3 separate regions of the Homo sapiens genome follow, and all the other regions are linked to region 1. The links come from fine-mapping of genetic effects on gene expression. A gene starts in region 1. Each other region holds a variant in brackets. All regions are shown on one strand. Distances are between the middles of the regions. Region 1 holds the start of ABCA5 (ATP binding cassette subfamily A member 5). Region 2 overlaps MAP2K6 (mitogen-activated protein kinase kinase 6). Region 3 overlaps ABCA5 (ATP binding cassette subfamily A member 5).

The links.
Region 2: its variant is fine-mapped to the expression of ABCA5 in pancreas (GTEx, PIP 0.97).
Region 3: its variant is fine-mapped to the expression of ABCA5 in whole blood (TOPMed, PIP above 0.99).

What each region holds. Positions count from the first base shown.
Region 1 is chr17:69,322,175-69,330,362 of GRCh38, reverse strand. It overlaps ABCA5 (ATP binding cassette subfamily A member 5), which reads left to right and starts at 3,230. Exons shown (of 39, transcript NM_172232.4): 1 at 3,230-3,311. RefSeq lists an enhancer at 2,724-2,863 and silencers at 2,944-3,323, 3,454-3,543.
Region 2 is chr17:69,463,230-69,471,417 of GRCh38, reverse strand. All of the region lies in intron 1 of MAP2K6 (mitogen-activated protein kinase kinase 6), which reads right to left. Among named protein-coding and RNA genes, the nearest start is that of MAP2K6-AS1, 18 kb to the left of the region's middle. The variant T/C (reference allele first, on the strand shown) is at 4,710.
Region 3 is chr17:69,259,534-69,267,721 of GRCh38, reverse strand. It overlaps ABCA5 (ATP binding cassette subfamily A member 5), which reads left to right. Exons shown (of 39, transcript NM_172232.4): 24 at 2,817-2,987; 25 at 5,974-6,087; 26 at 6,463-6,597; 27 at 7,310-7,384; 28 at 7,925-8,016. Among named protein-coding and RNA genes, the nearest start is that of PRO1804, 29 kb to the right of the region's middle. The variant A/G (reference allele first, on the strand shown) is at 3,762.

The DNA.
Region 1 (8,188 bases):
ACAAGGTACAAATAGTTTGATAAATAACCTGTTCAAACAGACAGTAAAATATGTCAGGGTCCATACATCAATTTGTGGCAATCTTTTTATTAATAGGTCTTATTTAGTATTCCCTCTGTTAAATTATTCTTACAACTGCATTACATCTGTATTAGTCTGTTCTCAGGCAGCTATAAGTACATACCCAAGATTAGGGAATTTATAAAGAAAAGAGGTTTAATTGACTCACAGTTTCACATGGTGAGGGAAGCCTCAGGAAACTTACAATCATGGTAGAAGGCACCTCTTCACAGGGCAGCAGGAGAGAGAATGAGTGCCGAGTGAAGGGGGAAGCCCCTTATAAAACCATCAGATCTTGTAAGAACTCACCCTCTATCATGAGAACAGCATGGGGAAAACTGTCCCCAGGATTCAATTGTCTCCTCCTGGTCACCTTTGACATGTGGGAAGTATTACAATTAAAGGTGAGATTTGGTTGGAGACACAGAGCCAAACAATATCACCATCATAATTTTGTCATTCATCCTATAAGGGGAATTTGATATCTTCCCTTTTATGAGTAGGTAGCCCTTGTTGAGTGGGTGGTGACATTTTGTGGGGGAAATGAAAATATTTGAATATTCTTGCTTATTATATGTGTTTTCTCATTGGAAGCATTAATAATATTTACTGTATACTATGATGCATAGGACTTGGAAATTTAAATCGGTATAAGAAGAAGCTTTCGCCTGGGTGCTATGGCTCAGGCCCGTAATCCCAGTACTTTTGGAGGCCAAGGACAGAGAATCACTTGAGCCCAGGAGCTTGATACCAGCCTAGGCAACATGGAAAAACCCTGTCTCTACAACAAAATACAAAAACTAGCCTGTGTGGTGGCATGCACCTGTAGTCCCAGCTACTTAGGAGGCTGAGATGGAAGGATCACTTGGACCTGGGAGGTAGAGGTTGCAGTGAGCTGTGATCATGGCACTGCACTCCAGCCTGGGTGACAGAGCAAAACTTTGTCACAAAAATAAAGAAAGAAAGAAAAGAAAAGAAAAAGACAAGTCAAGAAAAAGCTCTTAACCTAAGACTATTTACAATTTAATTGAAGAGATGGTAAGTAAATAAAATGATGTGAACAAGATGGTAGTATGTAGGCAATTGGGAGGAGAGTGAGATCATTTTGTCCAGGGTGATGAGATTTTTGGAGAATTGGGTTTTGGTCATGTCATTTAGAAACAAGAGTAAAAGCATGAGCAGACAGAATGAATGACAGAGAACATTACAAGGATAAGAAATGTAAGAAATAAATGCCTAGAATAGTAGTAGAAATGAGTAGACTTCTGAAGTTAAGGCAGGTTAAGGCTACTAGTGAGAAGTGTTGGGGTGAAAGTATGGTTCAGTAACATGTTAACCAAGTTTATCTTTCATGTATATTTCTTTACTTGGCCCCAAATCCTAGGCCATTGAGAATTTGTAACTAAAATGTTCTAGATGTTTCCAAAAGAGACAGAATATATCAGGGATAGTTTTCATTACATGCCTTCTTTAGTTTCCTGGTGTAGTTTTTTGAATATACTTATCTCCCTTTCCCCCATCCCCATTGCTAGATCTTTTAATCCAGGGGTCCCCAATCCCCAGGCCAGAGACTGCTACCGGGATCTGTGGCCTGCGAGGAACCAAGCAGCACAGCAGGAGGTGAGCGGAGGGCAAGTGAGTGCAGCTTTATCTGTATTTACAGGGGCCCCCCATGGCTGGCATTAGGGCCTGAACTCCGTTTCCTGTCAGATCAGCAGTGGCATTAGATTGTGATAGGAGCGAGAACCCTATTGTGAACTGCGCATGTGAGGGATTTAGGTTGCGTGCTCCTTATGAGAATCTAATGCCTGATGATCTGTCACTGTCTCCCATCACCCCCAGATGAGACTGTCTAGTTGCAAGAAAACAAGCTCATGGCTCCCACTGATTCTACATTATGGTGAGTTGTATAATTATTTCATTACATATTACAGTGTAGTAACAGTAGAAATAAAGTGCACAGTAAATATAATGTGCTTGAATCATCCCCAAACCATCCTCCCTCCCCCAGAAAAAACTGTCTTCCATGAAACTGGTCCCTGGTGCCCAAAAGGTTGGGGACCGCTGTTTTAATCATCAAGGATTCTGACGAACCTCTTTGAATTTTCTATTTAATTCATATTCCATAAGTAAAACTTGATTCCTTGTTTGTTTGTTTTTCCCCTAAGAATTTAGAAAGCAGAGTGCATGTTGGGGAGACCTGGTTTAAATTCGAGAAGCAGATAACACAAAGACAAGTAAAAAAAAAAAACATGATGTACACAGGATTGACAGAATAAAAAAAAAGTCTTTGTGCAAGGGAATGTGACTATACAGAAATGTGGAGAGGAAAATACGTAATGTTAGTGTTAATAACTTTTGACCCCATTTAGGTCACTTTGAGTAATGAAGCTCAAAACACTAGATTATATTTTTAGCAAAGTAAGTGCAGTATCCAGTCTCTCACAGATGTCATGTGTCTCAGGCCGTTTGGAAAATTCAGCATCTGCCGCATTCCCAGTCTTTGATGAGGACACTCCGCGAACTACAAGCACCCTCAGTGGGAGGACCTCCCAGGTCGGGGTGTGAGGGCCAATGAGGAGGCTGGGGAGGGGAGGCAAGAGTTACGGAAACGGGGCCACAGCACTCCAGATGCCGCGGCGGGAGGAAGCGGGGCTGCAGAGGACTCAAAACGCGTTCAGAGAGGCCCATCCAAATGCCAGGAGACAGACGGCAAGGATGCTTAAGAGGAGACGTGACTGGGCGAGGCAGATGAGGAGAGGGCCGTGGGCCAAGGTCACCCGCTAAGAGGCGGCAGGTTTACCACTGAGACACGAGGCCGTGGTTTTTGCCCGTGCCTCCAGAAAGAGCGTGGCGAGATCCCCGCAGAACCCAGGCGTGGGAGGCCCTGGGGAAGAGCCACGAGGCCCGACTCTAGTGGCTCAGGGGCCCTGGGCAGCGGCGCGCCACCGCTCGCCCCACCCTCAGCCGCTCTCCTCTTCCGGGCGCGCTGCTTGCCTGCGTGCGCCGGGACGCGCGGGGCCGAGCGTCTGAAGCGCGCCCGTACGCGGAGCGGCGCTTTCTAGGAGCCCCGCCCTCAGGTGCGCTCTGCAGGAGGCGGGGCGCGACTTCGGCGCCGCCAGCTCTGCCTGCGCCAGGAGCGCGCGGGTGCGCGCGGCCGCGCCCTCGCACAGATCCCAGCTGGGTCACCCGCACTGAGTCAACAGACTGAGCGCGTCCAGGCCTGACAGCTCTGCGGCTCGGGCCCTGAGGTGAGGCGGGCGTCGCGGGCGGCGGCGGCGCTTGAGGCTAGCCTGGGACAGCCGTCCCTGGGGGAGTTGAGGGGACGAGGAGGGGCTGGCCAGCGAGGGACGGCGGGGAGAGAAGGGGAGTTCGGCGTCTGAGGTGTGGGGTGAAGCGGGCTCGGAAGCGGGCAGAGGCGGCGAGCTGAGGGAAACAGACCTCCCTCAGCTCCCGGGAAGCGCGGGTTGCCAGCCTCGGGGATGCGGTGGGAGCGCCCAGGATGCGGACGTGAGGGGGTCGGGGCCCTGCGGCGGGGGCTCCGCGAGGCTCCCCTGGGACCGGGTCCGGCCGTGGGACTTCGGGACACTGCCTTTGCCTGGACGCTGTCGTTCCACCCTCAGCAACCTCAGGGAAAGAAGGAAAACAAATATTGATGTAAATTTCCGTCTGAACAGCTGGGTAATGAGCGCTTGCTCTTCCCTGCGAGGTTACGCGCGGATCATTACCTTGCGTGTTAAAAGGAGTTTCAGTGAGAAGAAAATGCGCAGATCTCATGACACAGTTTGGGAGGGAAATTCCCTGATCCTAAAACACGAATAGGAGCTCCAGGCATGGAAATACTTAATTGGATCGGAAAGCTGGGCAGGCTGGAGCTATTAAGCTGAAGGAGGTTTTCCCCTGGGCTCCTCAGGCTTCGATTTACGTTTTAAATAAATAAGTCCGAAAATAATGAAGATAATAACCACGTTTACTTTCTACAAGGGCGTTCTGAAGGAATCTAAGGGAAGAGGAGTATTTGCTGGACTACAGCTTTAAGCCAGGCTCGGTATTAGCTCTTTTCATTCTGACAGCAACCCTGTAGGATTGGAGGGGGTTATTCCAGTTGGGCAGGTGTGGAGAATGGGCCTCAAAGAGGTTAAGTAACTTATTAAGGTCTCAGCTAGTAAAAGGATGGAGTTGAGATTCCAACCCGGGCTGCCAGACCCTAATTCTGGTGCTTTATTTAGTATATTTTGTGTTTGCCGGGAGAGCAATATTGTATGTGTTTTAGGGAAGACTCCATAGTAGGGAACATTATTAGGGCAGTTAGGGCTTTGTGGGTATTTGTGTTAAAATCAAACTAAAGAGGCGTTAATCTTTGCATATGTGCTGTTTGAGTATATTTCCTTTCAAACAGATTTAGTGTAGGGAAATCTTACATTCACTATAAGAGCAAATTTATTAGTACATTCCATGTGTATTGCATGTCTTTTATTTTTAAAGAGACAGCGTCTCGGGCTAGAGTGCAGTGGTGCGATCAAAGTTCACTGCAGCCTTGAACGTCTGGACTCTAGGGACCCTGCTGAATAGCTGGGGCTACAGGCGTGTGTCACTGCGCCCAGGTAATTTTTTATTTGTTTTTCAGAGACGAAGTCTTGCTATATTGCCCAGGCTGGTTTGTTGCATGTCTTTTACATTCCAGATACCATACTATGTGCCAAGAGTACCGATATGAATACAATTTATAATCTCTGTCCTTGAGTTTAGTTGAGAGGGTGATTGCATAAAAGAATTTTATGATATTGTACTAAGTCATAACTTTTCTAGTATGTAAATTAGTTGGATTAAAAATAGTTTTAAGGGCAAGCTTTTAAGGACCTATTATGCATAAGAAAATTTATTGGATGACTTGTCCTCTGTGTACCATTGCATTGTTATTTTCTCCCTCAGCAAGAAACACTGTGATAAAATTTAGGTTAAATTATATTGACAACTAGCATTTTTTTTTTTTTGAGACAGGGTCTCATTCTGTCACCCAGGATGAAGTGCAGTGGCAGGATCTTGGCTCACTGCAGCCTTGACTTCGCAGGCTCAAGTGATCCTCCCACCTCAGCCTCCCAAGTAGCTGGGACCACAGTTGTGTGCCCCTACGCCTGGCTATTTTTTTTTTTTTTTTTTTGGTAGAGACAGTGTCTCTCTATGTTGCCCAGGTTGATCTTGAACTCTTGGGCTCAAGCCTTCCTCCCACTGGGATTGCCACGTGAGCCACTGCACCTGACTGCATTTTGTTTTATTATTGCACCACCTTACAGTAAATTTTAAAGCAATAAAGAAGATGAGAGCATTTATAATTTATCCCTTTTTAAGCTAAAAGGCATATTTTGTAGTGCTTTTATTTCATTGATTGAGAAGCAAATGATGTAGCTAGGCAGGAGTTTGTTTCATGTGCCAGATATGTTCCTAATTTCTCATTCCAAAAATATCTTAGTTTAAAAGTGTAGCTAATACCAGATTGCATTTAATTTCTTGTGTTTCAGAGTTGTAATGAAATCAGTCTTCAGTTTAGGCTGAAATGGCACATTGTTGAAATGTATAACATTACTTTGTGGTGGATTTTGGAAATCTCTTTTAATTGCTTCAGTTTTCTCAGTAAAGTAGGATTCAAGGTCATAATCTGAGGGTGATCCTACAGATGGAAGCTTTGGAGATTTGGGGATTGGGAAAGTGATGGACTAGTGGAATATGTGATTGCTAGGAAATTAAACATGACTCACAGTTGTGAAAAGTACAGTAGAGGAAAGATATGAGTGCACAAATTAGGGTGTCTAATTTTGGATACCAGAAACTTCATAATCCATTCCCAATGCCTGCCTTTACCGTGTTATCTAGAACATACATCTGCACCCCTTGCTCCGGTTCACTTTGCCTTATGCCTCTGCCATATGGCAGGTATCCCTGTTCTTCACAAAAGTCAAGCCCTTTTGTTTGGGAGTCTAGCTTTACCATTCTTTTCTTTCTGCCTGGAAATTCCATTCCACTCCTTTCCAGGCTCTTTCTCTCTTATCACATTATATTAAATTTTATCTCTCTGCAAAGTTAGTGACAGTGTCTAACTTTATTTTTTTTGCCTCATAATGTTGGATGCATAAATCCTTCAGTAAATGTTAAGTGAATATGCCACTTTTCTCACTTCCCCTCTTCTTCCTTTTTACAGGAGTTGACCAACGTTTTTTGTAAAGTGCCAGATAGTAAATATTTTAGGTTTGCAGACAGTATGGTCTCTGTCTCAATAACTTTACTGTTGTAGCACAAAAGCAGTCATAGATAATACATAAATGAATGAGCATGGCTGTGTTCCAATAACACTGTATTTATAGACACTGAAATTTGAATTTCATATAATTTTTGCATGTCACAAGATATTATTATTATTTTTCAACCTTTTAAAAATGCAGAAGCAGTGTTCCTCATGGGCTGTGCCAAACAGACTGAGGGTTGGATTTAGCCCCCACCTCTTTCATCATAGTTTGCACATCCTTGATCTTTAAGGACTCTCAGGAAGCCTTGATAAAGGAATCTGTGGTAAGATGATACTGGGTTTAATATTTCCATTGGTGGTGGAGAAACAAAGATAAATAAGACTGTTGTTTTTTTCATCAAGGATCTCATGGTCAAGTTCAAGATGAAAATATATAAATAAATAATGGTGACAGGGTATAGTTACTGCAGTTACAGTTATGTTTACTGGGTATAGAGGTAAAACAAAGGAGTGATAATCAGCTCCATGTCAATGTTAATAATGACATTTAGGCAATATGATTAAAAATTGAGTTTATTTGAGCATAAAACTTGAGGATGGTCACACAGGAGGACACAGACTCCTGAAGGATGAGGTAAATGCTCCAAAGTGGAGAGGTTTGAGGGTCCTTTACATAGGCAAGGCCTGGGGATGCTTAACAGGGTTACATCATTTTTCGTACGAGGTTAGTGCATAGTTAGAGCAATTCAATTAGTTATAGGCAGTGTTTCTTTTTGGGGGAAGGGTATATTTAACATTTCACATTAAGGATGTAATGGTCAAAGGGTCTTTTATCACAGTCAGCGGTCTTTTATCCCTGGCATCATCTGGTGTGATCTAGGAACAAGAAAATAAGGAAGGAATTTCATGTATAACAAAAGGTCAGTAATTAAGAGGTCAAGCTTCATGACCCAGTCTCCAAAGTCAACCTTCAGTGCCGAACAACGTTTAGAAGCCCCAAGTAGACAGACTATCCATTTTCTGTTACATCTGCTTAGGTGGATGAGAAGTAACCTCTAACAGTCATTTGTTGGAGGTAGGGAATGTATTTTCAGCTAGCCTTTCTGGAAATCTTTTAAGGATGCTAAGAAGGTGACCACGTTTCTTATCAGGATGGCTCTAAACATCAGGATGACTCAACTTATTTATTTTATAGGGTATAATCTTAATTTGTTTCTCACAGAAATAAACATGGATATGTTTTTAATCAGGTCTCTATGAAAATAATTTAAAAAATTTAAAGTTATTTTACCTGCTACATAATAAATGGATTGTTTATTCCACAGGTATTTAGTACCTCCTCTGCTGTGCAGTGAGTTGTTTTACTAGCTGAAAATATTTGAAGGAGATAATGGTATCATTAGATAAGTGATGGATTTTGCGGGGGAGGTGGGGGAAGAGAGAGGCTCTTCTAAGGAAAGCACTGCTTTTAACAAAGGCAGTAGGTATAATAGTAGAACTACCTTAGATTTTAAAAAATACTTTATAGCTTTCAAATTTCTTATTTTAATTAATTAAATTCATGCATCCTAAATAATTTTTCTCTAACAATTATTTCTAAAGGTTATGTACATTTTTATTACTTTTAGTGATGTGGAATATGTTTCGTAGGACTTGGAACGTAGTAACCAGCACTTTTTTTTTTTTTTTTTTTTTTTTGAGACGGAATCTTGCTCTGTTGCCAGGCTGGATTGGCACAGTGTCAGCTGACTGCAACTTTCACCTCCCGGGTTCGAGTGATTCTCCTGCCTCAGCCTCCTGAGTAGCTGGGATTACAGGTGCCCGCCACCACACCCAGCTAATTTTTGTATTTTTAGTAGAGACAGGGTTTCACCATGTTGGCCGGGA
Region 2 (8,188 bases), 140 kb before region 1:
TGAGTTACTTCACTTAGGATAATGGCCTCCAGCTCCATCCATGTTGCTACAAAAGGCATAATTCCATTCTCCTCTGTGGCTGTATAGTATTCCATGGCATATATATACACCACATTTTCTTTATCCAGTCAACCACTGATGGATGCTTAGGTTGATTTCATGACTTTGTAAAGTTGACATTTTGAATGCTTGAGCCCACTGAAAGCTGGTGGTTGAGAGTGAGCAAAATGAAATCATACCAAGTCATCAAAGAGTATAACAACAGTTCTTTTCCGCTTAATACAGTTCATTTTTTTCCTACCCTATTTTGATAGTTTGAGATATATGCTCAATCAATTAATTTACCTGCAATGAAGTTATTATATTGAAAAACATATACTGAGCTCTTCCTGTGTGCAGGTACTGTCCTAGGTGCTGTGAATTTCACAATGAAAGCACCAGGGCCTCTGCCCCTATAAACAGCCAGGGTGAGGGTGTGTTTCAAGGCTGGTTCCTGGAAAAGGAGTGTGCATTGGGAGGTGGGGATGGGAGACGGTAAAAGGGAAAGTGAGAAGAGGCAAGGCATTCTGGTAAAGGCCATAAGCAAACACACCATCAAAAGCAAAGAGGTGTGGTGTGTCCAGAGGGCTAGGCAGAATGTGTGAGGAGGTAGTGTCAAGTTCTAGGCAGACAGCACCAGGAAACAAAAACAGAGGTAAGCAGGTAGTGCCGTTGAGGAGTTTGAAGCAAGGTTGGTATGGTCACAGTTCTGTTAGATGATGCCCTGCTTCATACTTCATTGACAAAATAAAAGCCATGAGATGGCACTTCACTTATCTCCCATCACAATGTCACAAAGCATCCAAATCCTCCATCTTCCCTTCTATACACAAGGGGGCATGTCCCTCCCATCAAAGGCCAAGCTCTCTGCTGGCTCTGGATTCATCCACTCTTGTCCTGGGAAAGATTCCAGTGCTTCCTTGCAGGGTTTCCTCCCTTCCCTGACGGATGAAGCATCTATCCTCCCTGGATGAAGGATTCCAGGGCCTCATCTTGGTGATGCTCCGAGTATCATCATCATGCTACTTTTGCCTGGTTTATTCTTATCAGTAAACATCATTTGTATTTGCCTAAAAAAATGCTTCAGTTCATTCCACATCCCCTCCAGCCATAATCCAAGTTATCTAAAGAGTTGTCTACACACTACATTGTTTCTACTTTATGGTTTTCTTTCTGCAACAGGGTCTCGCTCTGTTATCCAGGCTGGAGTGCAATGGTGTGATGAGGCTCACTGCAAACTCTACCTCCTGGGCTCAAGGGATCCTCCCACCTTAGCCTCCTGAGTAGCTAGGACTACAGGCACACACCACCATGCCCAGCTAACGTTTTGGATTTTTTTTGTAGAGATGGGGTTTTGCCATGTTGCCCAGGTTGGTCTTGAACTCCTGGACTCAAATGATCCACCCGCCTCAGCCTCCCAAAGTTCTGGGATTACAGGCATGAGGCATGAGCCACCATGCCAGGCCCATTGTTTCTACTTTCTAACTTCTGCTTTCATTGCTCCACCGACCATGATGTGGCTCTCCTTTGCCATCATATGTCCAAAAAAGCTCTTGTCAAGGTCATCAACCACCCCAAAGATACTTTTCTCTTTATTTACTTATTTATTTTTTTGAGATGGAGTCTCACTCCATTGCCCCCAGGCTGGGGTGCAGTGGAGCGATCTCCATTCCCTGTAACCTCTGCTTCCCAGGTTCAAGCAATTCTCCTGCCTCAGCCTCCCAAATAGCTGGGATTACAGGCGCCTACCACCATGCCTGGCTAATTTTTTGTATTTTTCGTAGAAACCAGGTTTCACTGTGTTGGCCAGGCTGGTCTTGAACTCCTGATCTCGTGATCCGCCCACCTCGGCCTCCCAAAGCACTGGGATTACAGGTGTGCACCACCGCACCTGGACCCCTATAGATACTTTTCTCATTTGACTCTACCTTTGTGGTAGGCAGAATAATATCCACTCCACTCTCAAAGCTGTCCATGTCCTACTTCCCAGATTCTGTGAATATGTTACCTTCCATGACAAAACGATCTTTGCAGATGTGATTAAAGTTAATGATTGATCAGGATTACTTGGATATTTTGAGCGGGCTCAAAATAGTCCTTAAAAGTGGAAGAGGAAGGTAGAGGGGTTGGTTAGAGAGATGCAATGTGAGAAGAACTTGACCAGCCTTGCAGGCTTTTAAGATGAAGGAAGGGGACAGAACTCAAGGAATGCATGTGGCCCCTAGAACCTAGCGACAGTCCTCAACTGACAGCCAGCAAGAAAACAGGGATCTCATTTCCACAATTACAAGAAAGTGGGGTCTATTCTCCCCTAGAAAATAGGTCCTGCACTCTCTGCTGCAGACCACAAGGGCCTCTGTAACACGATTCTTGCCCATTTTTCTGATCCCATCTCCCATGACTTGTTCAATTGCTCTGTGCATTAATCACTCTCTTCTAGTGTTCAGTTCTTTGAAACCAATAAGCTCTTACACATCTTTGCACAGACTGTTCATTCTGTCTGGATTGCTTGTTCAACCCGCCTTTTGTTGTTTTTGTTGTTCTGTTTTCTTTTGTTTTGTTTTAGGCTTTTTGCAGCCTGAAATCATGGTTTTTAGTTTCTCTCTCTAGTGATAAGCAGAAAAGAGGGATGATGAAGGGGCTTTACTGGCCCAACCAGAAACAGAAACTAAGAACCCATAACTGTATTCTCTCCTTTGGACACCCCTGGCTCCCTTCATTCCTCTTCTAGTTTCTTCGCACCTTTTCGAACTCAGCTTCGATGTCATCATCAAGGACAGCCCTTGTTCATCAACCCTACGCAAAGGATACCTTCCCTTTCATCCTCCACCTCAAATCCTGGTTTGTTTCCTTTGCAACAGTTTATAAACACATTAGTTATGTTTGCGTACACAGCTTTATTGGCCTTCAGTACTAGAAACTAAGTTTTGCGAGAGCAGAAACAGTGATTCGTTGGCTGTGTTATCCCAGCCTGAAAAGAGTAATTGGCTCGTAAATGGTTGTTGAATTACTTCCTTAGTCATTCTGGTGGCAGATGGAGAGTGGGTCAAATAGAGGATGAAACTGGAGTCAGGAAAACTAATTGAGAGATTACAGCAGAGGCTCAAATGAAGGATGAGAAGGGCCTGGATTGGATTAGTGATGGTAGAGATGGGGAGAAGGAACTCTGAATTACACTAAAGGTCCTTCTAGGGAAATAGCAGGTAACAACTGAGAACACTATCACAGGAGAAGCAATCTAGGAATGCGGGAAGGGGTGCACTTGGGCTGAAACAGGTTAAGATTCAGGCACCAACCAGGTAAAGAAATCCAAGGCCAGTTGTGATGGCTCATGCCTGTAATTCCAGCAGTTTGGGAGGCCAAGGCAGGTGGATCACTTGAGGTCAGGAGTTCGAGACCAGTCTGGCCAACATGGTGAAACCTCGTCTCTACTAAAAATACAAAAATTAGCTGGGCGTGGTGGCACATGCCTGTAATCCCAGCTACTTGGGAGGCTGAGGCAGGAGAATCACTTGAACCTGGGTTGTTGCAGTGAGTTGAAATCACATGCCACTGCACTCCAGCCTGAGTGACAGAGTGAGACTCTAACAAAAAAAAAACACGAAACTAAGAAAAGAAATCCAGCAAACAACTGCTTACTCAATTCTTAAGCTTCAAGGAAAAGACTGAATAAAAACTGAGATTTGGGAGTTACTGTTATACATAGATATGTACACATTAACATTTTTATAGTATGGTAGTTCCAGGATGTTCTCAGTTGTCTCACCAAGAAGTCTAAAAGCATTACTTAACAGTCAACCTAGCAACAGTGAAAATGGAAAAAGACTCAGTCCAGAGCTGTCCTCTAGAAAACCCAATCAATACACAATGAAAGGAAACTCACCACAATGGCATTTCACAGCTCCATACAATCCATTCTCCTCCCACTTTCCCCCTCCTGATTATCTCAAGCCTTCCTGGCTACAGATGGCCCACTTCCTAACAAACATCAGCCAATGAGCACCACATGGCTGTGCTCCCTGCAGAGCAGAGCAGTCAGATATCATTAAGTATTAGGTAAAACATCATCCCAGGAGTTCTCCCTGACAAGTATCAAAACACAAATTCTAACATGTTTCAGTCTCTTCTTGTACCTATTCATATATGGTACCTCGCTTACTTAATTCCATATTCTTTGCCTTATATAGAGACCCCTTTATTACTGCCTAGGATGCAGGTATGAAGAAATAATTAGTGGAACAAAACTCAGCTTCAAGTAAAGCATTAACCAGAAGGATAGAATGGGAGCCGCTGAGATTACCAGTTCATGAGTCATTACCAATTCTTATTGTAATCCATGTAAATATTAAGATGCACTTTTCTGCTTTGTTAGTATTATCTTTGCAACAGATTTCATGGTAGAACCACCATAATAAACAGATGGTACATCAAAAGTTCACTCGTTAATCTGATTGTTTAGCTCTGCATATATTTCCCAGATACACAATATTTCAATGGGGAGCCTCCACCATCAGCCCAACAAAAGCCTATTTAACTGATAACATAAGTGAATCCTAGATCTTTGAACCTGGAACAGGCCTTAAGTGAGTAGAAGTCATTTTATGAGGAAAAATGAGGAAAGATGAGGAAACCGAGGCTGCTCCAAGTCATACAATTAGTCCTGTGAATAA[T/C]GCTTTAAACCCATCCACCCAGTATAACCTGTTTCTGTAAGAAAATGCCACGGGATTTCCCGGCATTCACAGGGATTGCTAAGAGCATCTGATTTCCACTTTTGCTTTGGAATGCAAAGTCTTGCCCGGTTTCAAACCACTGGAGGGGATGCAGTGCCGATGGCTTGAGAAACAAATTCCAGAAAGGAATGGGCCAAGGAATAGAGCTGAGGGATGATAAGGAGGGTCTACACACTTTCTGGGAAAACGGAGATCATAGTAAAAGTAAAAATACAGAATACCCTCTTGCATTTTTGACTTCTTTAATTTACAATATGCTTTTCCATAGAGGAAGGGAAGATAAAGGACAAGCTACTAGAGGAAGGGGGTGGAAAGAGGAGGTCTATATATTTCTTTTTTTCTTTTCTTTTTTTTTTTTTTTGAGACAGTCTCACTCCGTCACCCAGGCTGGAGTAGTGGCTTGCTCTTGGCTCACTGCAACCTCCGCCTCCTGTTTCAAGCTATTCTCCTGCCTCAGCCTCCCGAGTAGCTGGTAGCTGGGACTACAGCTGTGCGCCACCATGCTTGGCTAATTTTTGCATTTTTTTTTTTTTTTTTAAGTACTGATGGGGTCTCATCATGTTGGCTAGGCTGGTCTTGAACTATTGGCCTCAGGTGATCCACCCACCTTGGCCTCCCAAAGTCCTGGGATTACAGGCATGAGCCACCACACCCAGCCAAAGGTCTATATATTTCTAAGAAGTGGAGGAAAAGGCTCAGAAGAATTAGAGGCACTAAAAAGCATCACCAGGGCTGGGTGCAGTGGCTCATGCCTGTAATCCCAGCACTTTGGGAGGCCAAGGCGGGCAGATCACCTGAGGTCAGTAGTTTGAGACCAGCCTAGCCAACATGGTGAGATCCCATCTCTACTAAATACAAAACATTAGCTGGACATGGTGGCACACGTCTATAATCCCAGCTATTTGGGAGGCTGAGGCAGGAAAATCTCTTGAACTCAGGAGGCAGGGGTTGCAGTGAGCCGAGATTGCACCATTGTATTCCAGCCTGGACAACAAGAGCGAAACTTTGTTTCAAAAAAAAAAAAAGAAAAAAACAAAACATCACCAGGAAGGGCACATCCCTCCTCTGCATCCCCTACCTTGTCACCTCTACCATTAACAAAATCAGCAATAAGGATGTATCAGGAGGTGGCCTTTTGTCTTTCAGCCTGCTGCCAAGTGTACAGTAGGTCGCTTCACAAACATTTGCTGATTGAATACACATACACTGGGAATCTTAAAGCAAAAGGAAGAAATGTTTACCTTTGCTGAAGTTATTAAACTTAGGTTGCTTTTGATACAAAATGCAAGAGGGCAGGAAAAATTTAAATAAGGGAAATAAGGGCAGGCTGTAACTTATAGATTTATAGAGCATAGTAATATCATTTTATTAAAGACTTTGTGTTCCAGGCAGTCATTTCAGTTAACCCAACTAGGGTACTGACAAGGACAGGATGAATCTGGAATTCTTGCCTGGATATGGTCCAATCTCGTATGCATAGATTGCAACTTAAATGAGTCCAGGTGGCTCTGACCATTAAAATAGCTACCATTCATTCAATCAACAAATATTATCAAGGAGCTATTATGCATCAGGCTCTGTGGGGGTCTGTAAAAATGAACACAATATTTATTCTCTTAAATAAATGCACAGTCTGGATGGGGGCAGTGGCTCACGCCTATAATCCCAGCACTTCGGGAGGCCGAGGCGGAGGGATCACAAGGTCAGGAGTTCGAGACCAACCAGACCAACATGGTGAAACCCAGTCTCTACTAAAAATACAAAAATTAGCCGGGCGTGGTGGCACGTGCCTGTAATCCCAGCTACTCGGGAGGCTGAAGCAGGAGAATTGCTTGAACCCGGGAGACAGAGGTTGCAGTGAGCTGAGATCACACCACTGCACTCCAGCTGGGGCAACAGAGCGAGACTCTGTCTCAAATAAATAAATAAGTACATAATCTATCAAAGATAAAAGGACATCTTACAAAAATAAGTAGCGGCGGCTAACACCTGTAATCCCAGCACTTCGGGGGACTGAGATGGGCGGATCACTTGAGGTCAGGAGTTTGAGACCAGCTTGGGCAACATAGTGAAACCTCATCTTTACTAAAAATACAAAAATTAGCCAGGCGTGGCGGCGCACGCCTGTAGTCCCAGCTACTCAAGAGGCTGAGGCAGAAGAATCACGTGAACCTGGGAGGTGGAGATTGAAGTGAGCTGAAATCGTGCCTCTGCACTCCAGCCTGGACTCGAACTCCAGCCTGGACAAAAGAGCAAGACTCTGTCTCAAAAGTAAAAAATAAAAAATAAAAATAAGTAGTGAGTGTTTATAAGGGGAAAGCACTATACTAAACGTGCAATAACTCATTTAATCTTCATGAAAATTATGTAATCAACTATTACTGTCTCCATTTGACAGATGAGGAACCTAAGACCCAGACACTGTAATCCCAGCTACTCGGGAGGCTGAGGCAGGAAAATCGCTTGAACCCAGGAGGCAGAGGCAGCAGTGAGCTGAGATCACACCACTGCACTCCAGCCTGAGCAAGAGTGAGACTCCGTCTCAAAAAAATAAGTAAATAAATTAAAAAATAAAATAAAAACATACAATATTTTAAATATTTATTTATCAATCAACAAACTGGTTTTGTTGTACTGGTGAGCCTATGCAATGTATAGCTGGAGTGCAGTGGCGCAATCTCGGCTCGCTGCAACCTCCGCCTCCCAGGTTCAAGCGATTCTCCTGTCTCAGCCCCCAGAGTAGCTGGGATTACAGGCACACGCCACCATCCCTGGCTAATTTTTTGTATTTTTAGTAGAGATGGGGTTTCATCATGTTGGCCAGGCTGGTCTTGAACTCCTGACCTCAGGTGATCCACCCACCTCGGCCTCCCAAATTGTTGGTTATAGCTTATTTTCAAAATAAAATTCTTTCTAAGTAGATTCACTAATATACATATATGTATTTGTGTGTATATATGTGTGTGTGTGTGTATATACATATATGTATGTGTATGTATGTATATACATATATGTGTGTGTGTATATATATAGAGAGAGAGAGAGGGAGCTAGCTACTCTGGGGGCTGAGACAGGAGAATCGCTTGAACGTGGGAGGTGGAGGTTGCAGCGAGCCAAGATTGCGTGTGTATATATATATACATATGTGTGTGTGTGTGCATATATGTGTGTATATATATACACACATACATATATGTATATTAGTGAATAATATACTTATATTCACTATTATATAGTGATATATATACATATAATTATAGATACACATATATATACACATACATATATGTATATTAGTGAATAATATACATATATTCACTATTATATAGTGATATATATATACATATAAGTATATACACACACATATATATACACACATACATATATGTACGTGAAAGCAAAATGTAAAAAAATGCTTC
Region 3 (8,188 bases), 63 kb after region 1:
CATTGTGAGGTAAGTTTTTTGTTACTGATTTCTTATAGATCAGGAAATCAAAGATGGGATTGTTCATATGACTTGCTCAGGTTGACTCAACTTGTTTAAATTGTGGATTTGGGAAGTGACTGTGATCTTTATGTTCTTAACTGGCAAACTAACATGCCCGTCCCTTTTATCCTTTAACAGAGGTATTAAGTAGTCAAGGTGCTAAATTCTTATTAATGGAAAAAAAATAGATGAAAGTGATTGTCATCATTAGGGCCTTGGAGAAATTGCTAAGTATACAGAGGTTCTTTGGTATTCTTTCACTTTCTTTTTACGCCTTTCCCTTTTGTTTTCCTTCAGGCATATAGCGATCTTGTACAGTCTTTGGTTGTTCAAAGCCTCCCACTTTTTCACTCTGCTGAGATTATATCTTACTGCTCTAATAAAAATTCTGATCTTCTTCATGGATGATCTTAATTCAGTAAAAACAAATTTGTCTAAATTAATTTACAGACTGTGATGAATAATGAGCTCATTATTTTAATAAATTCTAAAAAAATAAATTGTAGGCCAGGCGTGGTGGACCACGCCTGTAATCCCAGCACTTTGGGAGGCCGAGGTGGGCGGATCACCTGAGGTTGGGAGTTCGAGACTAGCCTGACCAACATGGAGAAACCCCGTCTCTACTAAAAATAGAAAAAAAATTAGGGCGTGGTGGTGCATGCCTGTAATCCCAGCTACTCAGGAGGGTGAGGCAGGAGAATCACTTGAACCCGAGAGGCGGAGATTGCAGTGAGCCGAGATCATGCCATTGCACTCCAGCCTGGGCAACAAGAGCAAAAACTCCATCTCAAAAATAAATAAATAAATAAATAAATAAAATAAATAAATACATTCTAATAAAAATTTTGTTATTTGTTTACTATAAAAGTAACACATATCTCTATTTTTAAAATAATATTCAATTTTTGTTAAATATACTCATTGTAGTAATGTATAAATTATAGAAAAGTATAAGGAATATAGAAATCCATAACCCACTGCACAATAATAAAATTTACTGGACATTTGCATTTTCTTTCTTGTTTCAACTGAAACATTTTTTTTCCAATATAAATTTTTTATTTTTATTTATTTATTTTTTAATTTTTTTATTTATATATATATATATTTTTATTATACTTTAAGTTTTAGGGTACATGTGCACATTGTGCAGGTTAGTTACATATGTATACATGTGCCATGCTGGTGCACTGCACCCACTAACTTATTTTTAATTAAAGTTTCTATTTTGAGATAGTTGTATATTCATGTTTGTTTGTTAGAAATGACAGAGAGATCCTGTGTACTCTTTACATTTTGTCCCAATAATAACATCTCGTAAAATTATAGTACAATGTAACAGGGTATTGGCATTGACACAGTCAAGATACAGAACATTTCTGTCACCAAAAAGATTCCCATTTTTTGCTCTTTCCTAGCCTCTCTGACCTGTGGCAACCACTACTCTGTTCTCTATTTCTGTAATTTTGATAGTTCAAAAATGTAAAATGGCATCACAATAAGTTTTCTTTTGGGATTGGCTTTTTTCAAATAGCATTTTTTTTGAAGTTCATCCTATTTGTATTTATCAATAATCCATTCCTTTTCATTGCTGAGTAATATTCCATGGTATGGATACATCACACTTTCTCTAACCATTTGCCTGTTGAAGAACATTTGGATTGTTTTCCGTTTTTGGCTTTTGTAAAGTTGCTGTGGACATTTGCATACAGGTTTTGTGTAAACATCATTTTCATTTCTCTGAGATAAATGCCCAAGAGTGCAATTGCTGAATTATACATGTTAATTTTATAAGAAATTGCCAAATTATTTTCCAAGATGAGTGTTCCATTTTATGTTATCCCTACCAGCAGTGTGTGAATGACAAAAGTTTGAATTATCCAAAATAATTGCATTTGCCTTAGCTTATGTTTTTATTCTTGTATTAGAATTTACATGTGTCTCATGTTCTCATAATTCATTGAACAGAAAACTTGCCAATTTTGTTCATTTCTCCTCTTCTTAACTAATCTTTATATTTCATGCTTCCTTTATCTCTGTGGACAGCTCTTTCATATAATACCTTCAGTTATTAGGAGTAGATATTTTTATAGATGACAAAAATCAACTAAATAAAATTGTTAGGTATTTGGATTTATGAAATATTTTAGAAATTTCAAATTAAATGAGAACATGAGATAGGAAAACTATGATCATTTGAGTTTACCATTAACAAACTTGTGACGTAAATAACACCTTAGATTTATATGCTATACCAGTGTACACAAAAGGCTTTGAACATTTCAAAAGCTTTCACTTAAGCTGAAAGCCTTATGTAAATCCAAAGGATACTTGGCAATTTATTAGTGTTTTTATTTATGAAAGGTTCATTTTTAAAACTGAGAATTCTTTTTCTGTGTAAACATGTCTTCCCATCTGTTTCCACAGTATTTCAAAAGTAGTAATGTTTTGGCTATTTATTATTTGTATAGCTGTAACCCCAACCGCCATGACACCTTTTGCTTTATTTTAATCTCAGTTTCTTGGCAGCACTACTGTATTCTGATTCTTAAAAATTTTGTTGAAATTGTTACATCTCAGAAATAATGAGCCAAATTAAAGGCTAAATGGAATTTGTATTTAGTGTGAGGGGGACTTTTATTACCTATAAGCCTGGAATGTAACCTTTTTGGTTTTGCTGATGTAAAATTAAGAGATCTACAATAATTTACTAATTTATTTGTGTGTTTCTAAAGTGTCTAAAATTATAATAAATTGTTTTTCATTTTTTTTAGATCAAAGCTTATACTCAACTTAAACTTTCAGGTCTTTTGCCATCTGCATATTGGATTGGACAAGCTGTTGTTGATATCCCCTTATTTTTTATCATTCTTATTTTGATGCTAGGAAGCTTATTGGCATTTCATTATGGATTATATTTTTATACTGTAAAGTTCCTTGCTGTGGTAAGTTAACGTTAGTTGTACTCATGCTATTTATAGATAGAATGTTATTTAAAATCTGTTATAAACATGACAGTTGACTTATTGCATAATTTGGTTATTAATTTGTTAAAGAAAATAGAGCAAGTGTGTCTGGTATTTAATACATGTAATCATTTTATATGATAAGTGACTTTTAAAAACAATAACTTACCACCATTTTAAAATAATTTCTTGAAACTAAAGTGATCTTTCATGTAGACCACCTACTTGGGTGTAATCAGGAACGTTTTAATATATTCCTTCCTTAAAATGCCTTCCTTCGTTTTTCTTATGCCTGAAAATAATTTCACAAAGGATAAGCTCTTTTATTCCATAGTTTAAAATATAGCTTAACATTTCTCTATCTCAATAATGGGCAGGCTGCGAGCCAGATGAAGAACACAACTCCATTTACAATAGCCACAAAAAATTAAAATACCTAGGAATACATCTAACAGAGGAGATGAAAGATCTCTACAGGGAGAACTACAAAACATTGGTGAAGGAATTCAGAGATGATACAAGCAAATGGAAAAAAATTTCATGCTCATGGATTAGAAGACTCAATATATTAAAGTGGCCATACTGCCCAAAGCAATCTACAGATTCAACACTATTCCTATCAAACTACCAACATTATTCATCACAGAATTTTAAAAAGCTATTCTAAAATTCATATGGAACCCCAAAAGTACCCAGATGGCTAAAGGAATCCTACATAAGCTGGGCGCGGGGGCTCATGCCTATAATCCCAGC[A/G]CTCTGGGAGACCGAGACGGGTGGATCACGAGGTCAAGAGATCAAGACCATCCTGGTCAACATAGTGAAACACCATCTCTACTAGAAATACAAAAAAATAGCTGGACGTGGTGGCATGCGCCTGTAGTCCCAGCTACTCAGGAGGCTGAGGCAGGAGAATCGCTTGAACCGGGGAGGTAGAGGTTGTGTTGAGCCAAGATCGTGCTACTGCACTCAAGCCTGGGCAACAGAGAGAGACTTTTTATCAAAAAAAAAAAAAAAAAGGAATCCATGTAAAAAGAACAAAGCCAGAGGCATTTCATTACCTGACTTCAAACTATACTATAAAGGCTCCAGTGACCAAAACAGCATGGTATTGGTACAAAAACAGACATGTAGACCGATGAAACAGAATGGAGGACCCAGAAATAAAGCCACACATCTATAGCCATCTGATCTTCAACAAAATTGATAAAAATAAGCAATAGGAAAGGACTCTGTGTTCAATAAATGGTGCTGGGATAGCTGGCTAGCCATATTCAGAAGAATGAAATTGGACCTCCACCTTTCACCGTATGTAAAAAGTAACTCAAGATGGATTAAAGATTTAAGGGTAAGACATCAACTATAAGAATTCTACAAGAAAACATAGGAAATACCATTCTGGACCTTGGGAAAGAATTTATGGGTAAATAAGTCTTCAAAAGCAATTGCAACAGAAATAAAAATTGACAAGTGGCACCTAATTAAACTAAAGAGCTTCTGCACAGCAAAAGAAACTATCAACAGAGTAAATGGATAACATACAGAATGGGAGAAAATACAAACTATGCATCCAACAAAGGCCAAGTATCCAGAATCTATAAGGCACTTAAACAATTCAGCAATCAAAAAACAAAACTCCATTAAAAAGTGGGCAAAAGATATGAACAGACACTTCTCAAAAGAAGACATGCAAATGGACAACAAATGTATGAAAAAATGCTCTACATCACTAATCATCAGAGAAATGTAAATCAAAACCACAGTAAGATACCATCTCATGTCAGTTAGAATGGCTATGATTAAAAAGTCAAAACCAACAGATGCTGGCGAGGCTGCAGAGAAAATGAAATGCTTATATACTCTTATATACTCTTGGTGGGAATGTAAACTTCAGCAGCCATGGAAAGCAGTTTGGAGAGTTCTCAAAAAACTTAAAACAGAACTACCTTATAACTCAGAAACCCCATTACTGGGTATATATCCAAAAGAAAATAAATCATTCTACCAAAAAGACACATGAGTATGTTCATTGCAGCACTATTCACAATAGCAAAGACATGGAATCAACCTAGGAGCCCATTGACCAGTGATTGAATAAAGAAAGTGTGGTACATATACACCACGGAATACTGAGCAGCCATAAAAAAGAATGAAATTATGTCTGTTGCAGCAGCACAGGTGCAGTTGGAGGCCATTATTCTAAGTGAATTAACAAAGGAACAGAAAACCAACTATTGCATGTTCCCACTTATAAATGGGAGCTAAATTGGGTAAACATGGACATAAAAATGGCAACAGTAGACACTGGGCACTACTAGACGGGGGCAGGAGGAAGGGGAGCAAGGGTTGAAAAACTAACTGTTAGGTACTGTGTCCAGTACCTAGGTGACAGAATGAATTATACCCCAAACCTCAGCATCATGCAGTATACCCATGTAACACACCTGCACATGTATCCCCTGATTCTAAAGTAAAACTAGAAATTACTTAAAATAAAATATAGCTTAAAATATCAAAGAAGAGACTGATTTGCATTCATGTTCACATGTAAATGACTGACAGCAGGCCCTTTCATTGATTACTTTATTAGGAAAAAGGGAAAACAGAGTTACATGAGGTTGATGCTGAAAGTAAATTTACCGATTTTGTCAGAGATCATAATGACCTTATATATTAGTTTCTGCCATATAAAATAATAATGTTTTTCTTACACATTAAAAAATAAAGTGCTGTATATTAAAATAGTAGCTAATATTTGAGAGAGAGAACGTTGTAGCTAGCTATACTTGCTTTTTATAATAATGAGAGATAGTATTTTACTTGGTACAAAAAACTACAAGTAGTGTTCAGTTTAAATGATTTATTTAGGATTATATTAATAATTTCATATTTTAATATGGCTAGTATTTCATGTCATGTGTATTGCAAGCTATTCATATTTTTATAGAAACATATTTCTGATTTACAGGTTTTTTGCCTTATTGGTTATGTTCCATCAGTTATTCTGTTCACTTATATTGCTTCTTTCACCTTTAAGAAAATTTTAAATACCAAAGAATTTTGGTCATTTATCTATTCTGTGGTAAGTCACATTTTACATTATTTCAACTTTCCATAGCAGTTTAATTAACATGAATTCTTTCCTGATTATACTAAAAATGTTACATGTCTTTTGTAAGTGAATAATTTAGATAGGTAATTGGCAGCTTCTTTTTGTGTGTACATTTGTCTTCTGAATCATCCTTTCCACGTAGGAACAATATGGAAGAGATTTAGCAACTAGTGTATCAAGGATACTAGCTACAAACAAGTGGTATTCTTGTTGCTTGCTGGCTAAATATCATCTCTTGTTCCATGTTTTATTAGAGGATTGAAAAAATAGTTTAATGCGTAGACACCAATTTGTAAGAAGTTTCTAAACACTTTGTCACTTTTATTTATTTATTTTTTTCTTTAGGCAGCGTTGGCTTGTATTGCAATCACTGAAATAACTTTCTTTATGGGATACACAATTGCAACTATTCTTCATTATGCCTTTTGTATCATCATTCCAATCTATCCACTTCTAGGTTGCCTGATTTCTTTCATAAAGGTAATTCTGCTAAATATTTTAATATGTTAAAAAACATAAAATAAATATGGTCTAATTTGGGGATGTTAGTTCTTGTATAGAAAACAGTAAAATGCATTGGGCTAATGGCTACTACTTGATTTAGATATTATTAATGCAGCATAAATTATTGTGAGCTCTTGTCAAACTGTAAATTCTCAAAGGAAAAGGGCTATGTTCATTACAGGTTCTCTCATGCTCAAAATGATGTATATAATTAGAAGTGTGACATGGTTTCAGTCAGTATTTGTTTTTAGGAGTTTATCAGTGATTAAATAACGTATTTCACTATAAAGGGATGAGAAAGAATAAAGTGTAAGAGATTTTCTCCAAGAAAAAATAGAGACAAAAACCAGATTGATTTTATTAAGGCTGGATAATTGAAAGAAATTTCCATGTGATTAGAAAAAATATTGTTATGAATTCTTGGTTTGGAATTGCTAATTAATTCTACTTACTAATCCTACTACCCCTGCTTCCCTTTTTAGGTCTCAGTTCAATGTGTTTAATTTATACTGATCCTCAGAAATATTTTGGGACAGGGAAGATTTTAAGTAAAAAACATAACTTACTAATATGAACAGCTAACTTATTATAGAAAGTACACGTTTGCTAAACAAAATACATTTTTTCATTTTAATCCAAATATTTCTACATATTGCAGCGTATATATTTTCAAATCTTTTTGTCTTAGATTTCTTGGAAGAATGTACGAAAAAATGTGGACACCTATAATCCATGGGATAGGCTTTCAGTAGCTGTTATATCGGTAAGAAATAAAGTGTTTTTGTGAATTAGCATGTACCTTAAGAATGGTTTGGTCCTATGGTTTTAACTATGTTTAGTTTTTTATCCTGTTGCATGAAAAAGAAGGTGCATAAAAAGTTAAGCATGTTAGTTAACGCTAGCTAATCTGTATTTCAGTGGGGAGTACCTTTCATTTACTGAATATGTTCACTTTAATATACTTAGCCTTTTACATGTTATTAATTCTGTTTAATTACAGTTCTGTCTTAGAAGCAAAAACAAAGTTTTTGTGTTCGATTATATTTTATGAAGCTGACAATAAATGAATGATACAGAGGCAGAAAATATGTGAATAATTTGCTAAAAATAATTCTGCTTTGGTTTGTATTAAAATTTATTTTTAATTATCTTTATCATGTAAAATATAAAAAAGTTGTGATTACTTCTTTTGGTAATGGCAAGGAACTTGATGTATGTAGTCTTAGTTCTGTTGGCAAAGGAAAAAACAACAACAACAACAACAAATCTTTTAGTCATGAGCTGCTACATGTTCTTCTTTTAGCCTTACCTGCAGTGTGTACTGTGGATTTTCCTCTTACAATACTATGAGAAAAAATATGGAGGCAGATCAATAAGAAAAGATCCCTTTTTCAGGTCAGTTGATTTTTTAAAAATTTTAAATGTTTTTAGTATATTTACAGAACTGTGTAACCATTACCATAACATAATTTTGGAACATTTCCAGCACTCCAAAAAGAAACTTTGTACCCATTAACAGCCACTTTCTTATCCCTATTCCCATAGCTCCCAGTCTTAGGTAACCACT